Homo sapiens: one gene and its partners. The protein of the gene in region 1 interacts with the protein of each later gene in a pairwise test. Each region holds a gene or a part of one and is shown on either strand. Other genes may lie near its edges. The genes, in order: GTF2IRD1, ZC4H2 and PKP1.

Region 1 (3,747 bases):
GGCACAGAGAAGGGGAGAATGTTCCTGAATGCCCGGAAGGAGCTACAGTCAGACTTCCTCAGGTTCTGCCGTGAGTACCCCAGGGCTCCGGAGGGCCGGGCCCGCCATTTCCCGAGGGCAGGCGCTCTAGCCCATCTCTGGGTCCCCAACCCTGTCTAGCCAGGGTGGCGGTGTGTGGGGAGTGAACCTAACAAGCTAGGTTGTCTGAGATTCCCGATGTGGTGTTATTGAGGCAGCCCCTGAGTTGATAGAGACTGGCTGGGTGAACCCCAGGGTAGGCCAGAGCCAGCCACTTCCATCTGCCTTTTCCAGATGGGGACACCAAGGCCAAGGCTGCTGCTCAGTTCTTCCTCTTAACTATGTATTCCTGAACACAAGGACCAAATGCACTTATGCCAACACAATTTTTTTTTTCTTTAAATGAGACAGAGTCTTGCCCTGTCACCCAGGCTGGAGTGCAGTGGCACAATTTTGGCTCACTGCAACCTCTGCCTCCCAGGTTCAAGTGATTCTCCTGCCTCAGCTTCCCGAGCAGCTGGGATTACAGGCACCTACCACCACGCCCAACTAATTTTGTATTTTTAGTAGAGACGGGGTTTCACCTTGTTGGCCAGGCTGGTCTCGAACTCCTGACCTCAGGTGACCCGCCCACCTCAGCCTCCCAAAGTGCTGGGATTACAGATGTGAGCCGCCATGCCTGGCCATGTTCCAATAAGATTTATTGAATGCCTGCTGTACATAGCATCTTTTCTGATGCTAACTCACCTACCCTGACATCAACCTGAGGGGGCAGGCACTGTCATGGCTATAGTCAGGGTTAACATCTTAGGCCAGGTGCAGTGGCTCATGTCTGTAGTCCTAGCACTTCGGGAGGCTGAAATGGGAGGATCACTTGAGCCCAGGAGTTGGAGACCAGGCTGGGCAACATAGCAAGGCCTCTGTCTCTACAAAAAATTTAAAAATTAACCAGGCTTGATGGTGTACACCTGTAGTCCCAGCTGCTTGAGAGGCTGAGGCAGGAGGATCACTTGAGCCTGGGAGTTCAAGACTACAGTGAGCTACGATGGCACCCCTGCACTCCAGCCTGGGTGACAGTGAGTCCCCATCTCAAAAGAACCATGGTATAGCATGAGGTTAAGAGAACGGGCCGCCTGGGTCCACAACTGCTGTGCCTCAACCCACTCATCTGTGAAAGGGGAGGACGGGTGGGTCTGAGGGTTAAACGAATTGGTACCTTGCAAGCACTTAGGGCAGTGTCTGGCACTTGGTTCACACTCAATAGACACCAGCTGTTGTTACTATTATTAGTATTCACCTCACACCCCTAAGATCAGCTGTTTCAGGGAAGGGCATCCCCCAGCGCTGGGCCTAGCATTACTGGGGTGCAGCCGCATCCCCAGCCAGCCCCCCACCCCCCTCAGCCCTCAGAGCCTAGACCTTCTCCAGGGCCAGGATGGGGGACTGGGCCGGGTAGAATGGACAGCAGCAGGTCGTGTGGCACCCCAGCCGCCCAGAGCCTGAGGCGGTGCACCTGCCTTCTAGAGCCACGCAGAGCCGCTATTTATAGCACCAGGAACTCGGCTGGTTTATTTCAAGCTCCGCAGATCCCAGAGGAGAATAGGCTCCAAGCTGGGAGGGGGCCGCAGGCCCCTCCTCTCATCTCCTTTCCAATGCAGCTTCTAGAACATTCCCCAAGGATCCACCAACACTCTCCGGTCCCCACCCTGGCCCAGCCTGGCATGAACCTGCTGTTTGCAACCCACGGCCTCCTTGGAGCAGGGGTTGGGGGGTGCCTCCCAACCCTCTGCCGGAGGGTTTTCTCTCCCTCCGGCAGAGCAGAAAACGGTGGCATAGATTGGTCAAGACAGTGTTCGTGTCAGAGCACAGAAAGGCATGGATGGGGCCGGGCATGGTAGCTCACACCTGTAATCCCAGCACTTTGGTCAGGAGTTCGAGACCAGCCTGGCCAACATGGTGAGACCCCATCTCTACTAAAAATACAAAAATTAGCTGGGTAAGGTGGCAGGCGCCTATAATCCCAGCTACTCGGGAGGCTGAGGCAGGAGAATCACTTGAACCCTGGAGGTGGAGGTTGTAGTGAGCCAAGCTTGTGCCACTGCACTCCAGCCTGGGCAACAGAGCGAGACTCTGTCTCAAAAAAAAAAAAAAAAAAAAAAATAGAAAGACACAGATGGAACATTCATCGAACCTCAGTTCTGAGCTGGAATAGCTGGCCTCCCGTGAACATTCACAGACTGAGGCTCAGAGAGAGAAGGGACTAACCCAAGGTCACACAGCAAATTAGAGGTGACCAGAGGTGAGGCCCAGCCCTGGGAACTCTGAGATGACCAGCCCTGGCCCTCAGTGGGGTGGTTGGAATAGGGCTTGCTCACTCATTAATTCTTCATTCATTCATTCACTTGTGTATCACATTGTGTGCCAGTCTCCGCAGCTCAGCACAGGGCAGCGACATCCCAGCTCGAAGGCCGGGTGGTGAGACGGGTGCTCACTGTGGCCTCGCGTGCTCTGTGTCCCACAGGAGGGCCCCCGTGGAAGGATCCGGAGGCAGAGCACCCCAAGAAGGTGCAGCGGGGCGAGGGTGGAGGCCGTAGCCTCCCTCGGTCCTCCCTGGAACATGGCTCAGATGTGTACCTTCTGCGGAAGATGGTAGAGGAGGTGTTTGATGTTCTTTATAGTAAGATCCTTCCTCATTCCATTTGGGGGCCCCAGGGAGGGTGGGAGCCTCGGTCCCCACCCAGCAGAGGGGGCCCCCTCCTGTCCCACTATGGGCCCTGGGCAAAGCCGGACCCCAAGGCATGGGGCTACTGGCTACCCCAGCCCTTCCTCATCTCTGCATTCCCAGACACAGAAGTTCTGCTCCAGCCGTTTTCCAAACCTCCACCCCTACTGTCCCTGCCCTGGCTCAAGTCACTGCCACCTCTCGCCTAGAAATAGCCCCAGGCTTGCCACGGTCTCCCTGCTTCCAGACCAGCTCTCTACACCTGCCCTGCAACCAAGGGTATCTTCTCAAAGCACAAGTCTGATCATTAATGAAGCTCTTCTCTCCACAGCCTTCGGGGGCTCCCCATCACCCTGAGCATGGCACAGGGGCCCACACACCCATCCTCATCCCCTCCACACCTTCTTCTCCCACTAGGTGACAGGGCCCTACTGACCTCTCTACAGAACCACTTCCAGTTCTCCAGCACTCGCTGGTGCATTTCACATGCCCTGGACTTCGCGCTGTTACATCTTTTGAGACTGCCTTTCCCCTCCTGTGTCTGGCAGACACCTGCGTGGCACTGAGGCTCTGCTCCTGGAAGCCCCCTCACAGTGGGTTTAGGCCCCTCTCTTGGCACCCACAGTGCCCTGTCCCCTCTCCAGCCCAAGAGCTCTCCAGAGTCAGGGGCTGTGTCTGCCCTTTCTAGCTGTCTCCAGCCTACAGTTCAGAGCCCAGCAACAGCAGGTGCTTGGAGAATGTTTGTTGAATGACTAAGTGAAGGCTGATTGCTCAGCCATGTCTTTCCTGCAGGAAGAGGAGACCTGGCCTCCCTTGGGAAGCGTCAGGTTGCAGAGGGCCTCAGGGCCCCAGTGGTGGTCTTCACACGCCCTGGGAAACATCGGGCAGGTCCCTTTGGTGCTCAGGGTCCCACCTCATTCATTTCTGATTTGGCTTTATCCCTTCTCCTACTGTAGCCTTTGGTTTTATGGAGCAAAGGTCTGTGAGGAAACTTCTGCTGTTCTTAT
Region 2 (3,747 bases), on another chromosome or scaffold:
ATTAGATGAAACTTGCTGTCTATATACTGTCTTGTTCTCTGCTCTATCCCTAGTACCTAGTACAATGAATGCCTGGCACATGATAAGTATTCAATAAATAATTATTGACTGAATATATATTGAAACCCTCTATAATTAATACATAGTAAGTGCTCAATAAATATAGTTAAAATACAGTTGTTATTATTGTCCAAAAGCAAATAGTTAATCAGAGGCAGAACCAGGATTTATAATTGAAGTCTGAGTCTAAAGCGCATGCTTCTTTTATGATATGACTTTGTCTGCAGAAATAGGTTCTTGGCCCAGCACTGCCCTAACTGGTTGTATGACACTTAGGGTGAGACACTATACTACTCTGAATCTTAGTTTTCCCATCGGTAAAATGGTTACAGGAGCAGGCAAAGTTCAGGTTTATCTTCACGTAACCTAGAAAAGGAGGAGAATAGAAGTCTAGATAGATGGGGATATAAGCAAATAAGTAATTAACCAATACAAATCAGTATCTTCCCTCTGCAAGACAGTTGATGAGCTATAACAAGAACCCTTGATGTTTTTATGCCCTTCAGCCTGGTAACCCTGTTCAAAGGCAATATAGAGTAGTGGATGGTATGGATGGTATGTAGGCTTTGGTGTTAGAGAGCCCTGGTTCAAATCCCAACATCCAATTTACTAGCTCTGTGGTACTGGGCAAGTTACCACCCTGAACCTCACTCAATTCCCTTCTCTACAAATGGGATAACACCCACCTTTTAACCCATTTCTAAGGTTACAAAAAAAAAAAAAATACAATAACATGAAAAGATGTTTTCTTAGTATAGAAAGAGAAACTTCTCCCACCATCCTACCCACCTAACAGTTCTTTCTGTAGTTCTGTGCCATTGAAGGCTACCTCTTGAGGCAAGAGGCACAGGCAATGTCAAGAAAAGAGAGACTGAAGACAAGCAGGCTGATGGCAGAAGCCAGAGTCCAGTGTGTGGAGTTGGATCACCCATAGGATAGACTGGGGCAGAGGGGAAGATCAGCTACTGAGGGAGAAGAAAGGAGACTACAAATCTGAGTAAGGGGATAATGGCTAGGCAGATCCTGAGAAGCATGGTAGGGAGCCAGTGGGAAGACAACAACATGCCTTAGAGGGTACCCCTTTCAAAACTTTGTAGCCCTTTCCCAGAGGCAGGCTTCAAATTATGTTATTAAAGGCCCTTGAAACTGTGTTTCTTCCAAATCTTTTTCTTATTTAGTCACATCCATGTATGTTTTGAAATTGTAATCTTAGTGTGTACACTTTTTCAGCGAGTATCTTATCTTCAACATTTTCTATGTCACAAGTCTTCAGTGGCTGTCAAATATCCTAATTTTGCTGAAAGCCCAGAAAGTACACCTCTGTGTATTAACTTTTTGCTTCCTTGAATTACCTCCTTAAAATATATTCCCAAGTATAGGATTCCTGAGCCACACGGTATACAATTGGGATTTAATGACCAAAACCAGGTTTTTCTTTTTCTAAGAAAGAAATTACCCATAATATCCTTTCCCCTTCCTTTTCTGGAACTGATAAACACACCCTCTAGAGTTGTGCTGTCTAATATGACAGCCAGTAGCCACACGTGGCTGTTTAAATTTTAAGTTTGATTAAATAAAATTCAAAACTCAGTTCCTCAGTAGCACTGGCCACATCACAAGTGCTCAGTAGCCATATGTGCATAGTGGCTATTATACTGGACAGCACAGATACAAAACATTTCCATCACTGTAGTAAGTTTATTGGACAGTGCTTACTTAGAGTTTCTCAAGAGATCATTTTTGGTTTCTTGGGTGGGAGTTCTTTGTGTTCAGGACTTTCCTGGGCATTGAGAGGCTATTTAGCATCTCTGGCCCATGTCCACTAAATGCCAGTAACACATTTCCTTGAGTCAATCTAACAGCCAAAACACTCCATATTTGCAAATGCCCCATAAGGGAACAAAATTAACCCCATTCGAGACCCACTGAGCTTTTAGAGGGAAACATCTCCTAACTTTTTCTTGAGACAAGGTCTTGCTCTGTCACCTAGGTTGGAGTGCAGTAGTGCAATCATAGCTTAAGCAATCCTCCTGCCTTATCCTCCTGAGTAGTTGAGACTACTGGCATGTACCACCATGTGTGGCTAATTCTTTCTTTCTTTCTTTCTTTTTCTTTTTCTTTTTCTTTTTTTTTTCTTTTTTCTTTTTCTTTTTTTTTTTTGTAGATATAAGGTCTCACTATGTTGCCCATGCTGGTTTCAAACTCCTGGGCTCAAGTGATCCTCCTGCCTCTGTCTTCCAAATTGCTGAGATTACTGGCATGAGCCATTGCACCTGGCCTTCTTTTTTGAGATGGCCTCAGGTTGGCTCTGCCTGGAGAGGGGGAAGCTTGTAAAGATGGCTTAGAAAAAAAGTCCTGGCTCCATTTCTATTTTCTCCCTTCTTTTGCTGGCCTGTTTCCTGCTTTTTGCAAATTGCAGGAACAAGACCCTGCAGATGGAGAAGATCAAGGCTCGTTTGAAGGCTGAGTTTGAGGCACTTGAGTCAGAGGAAAGGCACCTGAAGGAATACAAGCAGGAGATGGACCTTCTGCTACAGGAGAAGATGGCCCATGTGGAGGAACTCCGACTGATCCACGCTGACATCAATGTGGTACGTGGCTGCCTGGAGCCTATCTCTAAAGCCTTTGAGAAAGAGGTAGTGGTGAATGATAGGGCCTTTCCTTGAGATGTGGCTTAGGCCTAGCTCGGGGAGCAGGCATCAGTGCAGGCTGTGGTAGAGCAGAAGAATTCAGGAGTTCTGAGATCCAGCCCTGGCTCTGTCACTAACTGACTATATATCACTGGACAAGTCCCTTCTCTCTGGGCCTCATTTTCCCTCTCTGCACTATAAGGGGGACTCAGTACCCTCTAAATGTACTGATTTGATGTGCTCTCATTCTGGGATTCTGGGAGTTGAGAGCTAGCCTTGGGGAAAAGCAGAGCAGGCAGCTGCCTCTGGAATGTAGTTTAAAGCACTCCAAGCTTTCAGTCAGACCAAACAAATCATTTCTGCCTGCTACCAAAGTGGAGCTTCCTCATTGATATATCCTTTGGAAACTCTTGGAACACAGAATATGAACTGTCTGCTAAGGTGGTAAGCTCCCCTCTTTGGAATTATTCAAGCAGCATCTTAATGGACACTTGTATGAGCTACTGTACTGATGATTCCTTCACAAGGAAGGAGGTTGGCAGTGCTGACCAGTAAGGTCTTTTCAAACCCTTATCACCCATAACCATGAAGAATATATTTTTAAAATTTACTTTCAAAGGAACTAAGTTTATATTTCTGGAAAACTCATTTCTGTGGCAATACTCATTTTCTGATGTTGTCAGACCTAGGATCATAAAGGAAATATGAATGAGGTTTGGACAGTAAGCAATTGGGATTTTCTGTGTTAGAGATCGCAGAATTCTAGATCTCATAAAGTGTTGACAGTTTGGCTGCCAGCTAACCAATGATACAGGGCCAGTTAAATGAGGAAGATATTTGCCAGAAGGGCTAAGAATATAAGCCAGTGGATCTCAAACTTGAGCATGCATCAAAGCCACTTTGAGAGCCTAAGACACATATTGCTAGACTCCACCCCTGATTTTCTGATTTTGTATGTCTGAGGTGAACCTAAGAATATGCATTTCTGAGTTCCCAGGTGATGCTGATGCTGCTGATCCCTTGGCCACATTTTGAGAATCACTGATCTAGGAGAAAA
Region 3 (3,747 bases), on another chromosome or scaffold:
GGTTTGCCAAAGGAGATTGACAAAGATCTGAGCCCAGCTGCCATGATGAAGCCCTGGGCTCCAGGTGTTGCTGTGTTTTGTGTGGACTTAGCACCGCTGACATTGACAGCTAAGGACTGGCCCCAGGAAGAAAGAATGATGGGGGCACTAGATGGCTTTGGAATCTAGAGGCATGGGGCTTCTTCTGGAGGAGTTTGTTCTGGAAAAAAAAAAAGACACATTCTTCAATATCCCAGTCTGCCCATTGGCATGTTGTCCATAGCAGTCCTACCACACACTAGGCCCTGTGATAAGTGCTTTCTCTGTATCATCTTCCAAATAGCCTAGTGAAATGGACAATTGTAGTCTCATTTTACATTTGAGATAGCTGAGGCCCAGAGAAGTGAGGCCAGTCAAGTTCATGCAGCCAGGAAATGACAGATTCAAACTCAGGTCCCAGAGGTGGCCCTGGAAGACTTCCCAGGCTGATAGTGTGGTGGTGCCTGCGCTCATCTTTCCCGATGCAGCCCAGGTGCCTCTGCTCTCTTATTAGCTAGGGTAGGTGGTAGGCCAGGAGCCTGTCGGGCCGGGCAGAGGCTCAGGCCCATGCCTCTCCTTGGTCCCCAGTCTGTGGAAAACTGCATGTGTGTTCTGCACAACCTCTCCTACCGCCTGGACGCCGAGGTGCCCACCCGCTACCGCCAGCTGGAGTATAACGCCCGCAACGCCTACACCGAGAAGTCCTCCACTGGCTGCTTCAGCAACAAGAGCGACAAGATGATGGTGAGCACAGCATCAGCAGGGCGGGGCCTGCCCCATCAAGCACCCCCCCAGGAGCCACTGCCTCATCTGCCCTTTCCTCTGGGCCCTCCTGGAGCCTGAAGCCAGCCCTAAGGGACAGGCCCATGCTGACACCTTGGCCTGGGGCTCAGGGTGCACTCTGGGAGCTGGGTAGAGGCCATTCATCTTGCACAAGGGGGAATCTGTTCTTGGAACTGTAGGGGCTCAGACCACCTTAGAGGTCAAAAACTCCAGCCTTCTGTTTGCAGGCCTTGGTCTTTCTTCCTGTATAGTGGGTCAAGTCTCCCCCATCTTCTCCCTTGCCCTTGAGGATCTGAGGAAAGCCAGAACTCTCACTCTTTCTGGCCTTGGTTCCCACCATCTCCTGAGCCCTGCCAGGTTTCCCCAGAAGCAGAAGCCTACCAGGGATGGGTTGTCAGGTCTCCTTCACTGGGCCCAGCTGTGGAATCCAGGTCTCAGACCACCCTCTTTGGCCCAGGGTGGGTCAAACCTACTGTCTGAGTCTGGAAGAGGAGGAAGCATCATGATGGGAGAGTCCAAAGCAGCCCCACATATCTGGAAGGTTTGGGCCAAGGCTGCCCTGGAACACAGCTCCCAAGATGCCAGGATGCTCTCTTCTCCCACATCCTGGGACAGTCTGGGGGACCATGGCCCATTCCTGCATCCCATGGAGCTGCTGCAGTGCATAGAGGAAAGGGGTGCAGCGGGGCTGTCCTGGGCCCCCTGCCTCTGCAGGCGCTTCCTCAGCTTGCCCTATCTGGAACCACGACCCTGAGGCTGGGGGGATGGGGACAGAATGCCTGGGTTGTGTCCTCTCACAAGGCTCCCCATTGACCCCCCTGACCGGCTCTTTATCCTCAGAACAACAACTATGACTGCCCCCTGCCTGAGGAAGAGACCAACCCCAAGGGCAGCGGCTGGTTGTACCATTCAGATGCCATCCGCACCTACCTGAACCTCATGGGCAAGAGCAAGAAAGATGCTACCCTGGAGGCCTGTGCTGGTGCCCTGCAGAACCTGACAGCCAGCAAGGGGCTGGTGAGTGGGACTGTACCTTCTCTACTGCAGCAGCCCCATCCTCCAGCCACCGTCCAGCCTCTGCTCCCTCCTTTTCCCCCCAGCCTGTCCCCTGACTTCGGAGCCTCCCATGAGCAGAGTGTGCCTGGCATATGCTGGGCTCTGGGCTGGGCAATGGGGAAACACTCCTGCCCTTTAGGAGCTGCTGGGGGATGCAGAGAGGGTGGGCCCACTGATGCTGGATTCTGTCCATGCACACACAATCCCCTTGGCCACATGGCTCCCGGTCCCCAGCTGGCCTCCTGGGCTCTGCTTGAGGTCGGGGAATGCGGCGGAGAAGGTGTTTGGCAAAAGGAGTTTCCCATTTGTTGAACTGACAAAGGTGGAAAAAGAGGGTTTGGGGTCCAAGCAGGTCCAGAGAAGATGTGACAGAATCCGTGCAGATGTTGAGGCCAAATGTATGTAGCTTGGAGGGCACAGTGGTATGGGGCAGAGCCAGAGGAAACCTGTTGCAATCAAGAAGAGTTGAGATGGGCCAGGCGGCCAACTGTTCTTCAGCTTTACTTAGGAAAAGGGAACCGAGCAGCAGCAGCACTAGAGTAGACCGAGGGCAGAGAACTTCCCTGGCTGTGAGGAGAGAGGCTGGGCAGTTCTGAGAATGCCAAACCCACCTAGACCTGTTACACCCAGGATAGCTATGTTGCTTAGAGGCCTGGGCGAACTGGCCTACCTCTAGGGGACCCCAGTTCTCTCTCCATGTGGGCCCAGACCCTTTCTTAGCCCTCTTTTCTCAGGCAAGCCCTCAACAAATATGTGTTGGATTCTAAAGAGGTAGGAAAGTTGGAAGAAGATGGCCAGATGTTTAATTGACAAATACCCTTGACCATATAGTTTCACATGGGCAGATAGCGTGGGGAGATGTAATGGGGGCAGCGCTGAGACAGTGGGGTGAGAGAGCAGCATTGGACGCTTGGGTTACTCTGGAAGCTAACTCTGGGTCACTATGAGTAGGGGAAATGAGACTTCCCTCTCTCCACCCATCTGGGCTGCAGGCTGATCCAGGAGACAGGATCAGGGCTGGGAAAGGGGAGGTGCATGTTAGCCTAGGTTTCTGTAGTTGCCCACATGTGAGCTAGTGCTTCCAATATGAAAGAGAAAGGGTTCTGGGATGTCTGCCTTTGGGGCTCCTTGCCCCTTTCTGCCTGCCATGGTGCCTGGGAAGCCACAGGCTAGCTCATCATCTACTCCTTCTCTCTTAGATGTCCAGTGGCATGAGCCAGTTGATTGGGCTGAAGGAAAAGGGCCTGCCACAAATTGCCCGCCTCCTGCAATCTGGCAACTCTGATGTGGTGCGGTCCGGAGCCTCCCTCCTGAGCAACATGTCCCGCCACCCTCTGCTGCACAGAGTGATGGGTAAGGTCCCTCTCTCTCCTCCCCCTCTAGCTAAGACATGGCAGGCTCCCTACAATTCAAGCCTGCTTGAAGGTCATCCTTTAAGCCATTCCCTGGGATGAGCATTCCAAGAAAGGAAGCTGGCCAAAGACAGGTATGGAGACAGGAGAAGGGAGCCTGTCACCTGAGGGCTGGGAGCAGATCTGCAAAAGTCCTATCTGGGTCTCTGAGCCCTGAGTTGGAGCTGCCAGGAAGCCCTGAGGGCCACCTGGCTCAGAGCCCGGCAGAAGGCTATCGAAGAGTGTGGCCCCAGAGGGAACCCCTCAGCCCTTCCTTCCCCAGTCATCCTGACCCTGTGCCCCAACTCGTTCCTCTCCCAGGGAACCAGGTGTTCCCGGAGGTGACCAGGCTCCTCACCAGCCACACTGGCAATACCAGCAACTCCGAAGACATCTTGTCCTCGGCCTGCTACACTGTGAGGAACCTGATGGCCTCGCAGCCACAACTGGCCAAGCAGTACTTCTCCAGCAGCATGCTCAACAACATCATCAACCTGTG

The links.
Region 2: the proteins of GTF2IRD1 (region 1) and ZC4H2 interact in a two-hybrid assay, tested with the Homo sapiens proteins (one study listed by BioGRID and IntAct).
Region 3: the proteins of GTF2IRD1 (region 1) and PKP1 interact in a two-hybrid assay, tested with the Homo sapiens proteins (one study listed by BioGRID and IntAct).

The regions. Positions count from the first base shown.
Region 1 is NC_000007.14:74,512,902-74,516,648, forward strand, and holds part of GTF2IRD1 (general transcription factor II-I repeat domain-containing protein 1), read left to right. Parts: coding exon 1-70; intron 71-2,443; coding exon of another isoform or gene 2,444-2,539; coding exon 2,540-2,695; intron 2,696-3,747. UniProt on the Homo sapiens protein: May be a transcription regulator involved in cell-cycle progression and skeletal muscle differentiation. May repress GTF2I transcriptional functions, by preventing its nuclear residency, or by inhibiting its transcriptional activation.
Region 2 is NC_000023.11:64,920,721-64,924,467, reverse strand, and holds part of ZC4H2 (zinc finger C4H2 domain-containing protein), read left to right. Parts: intron 1-2,224; exon of another isoform or gene 2,225-2,479; coding exon 2,480-2,651; intron 2,652-3,747. UniProt on the Homo sapiens protein: Plays a role in interneurons differentiation. Involved in neuronal development and in neuromuscular junction formation.
Region 3 is NC_000001.11:201,321,372-201,325,118, forward strand, and holds part of PKP1 (plakophilin-1), read left to right. Parts: intron 1-606; coding exon 607-762; intron 763-1,641; coding exon 1,642-1,818; intron 1,819-3,056; coding exon 3,057-3,210; intron 3,211-3,569; coding exon 3,570-3,747. UniProt on the Homo sapiens protein: A component of desmosome cell-cell junctions which are required for positive regulation of cellular adhesion.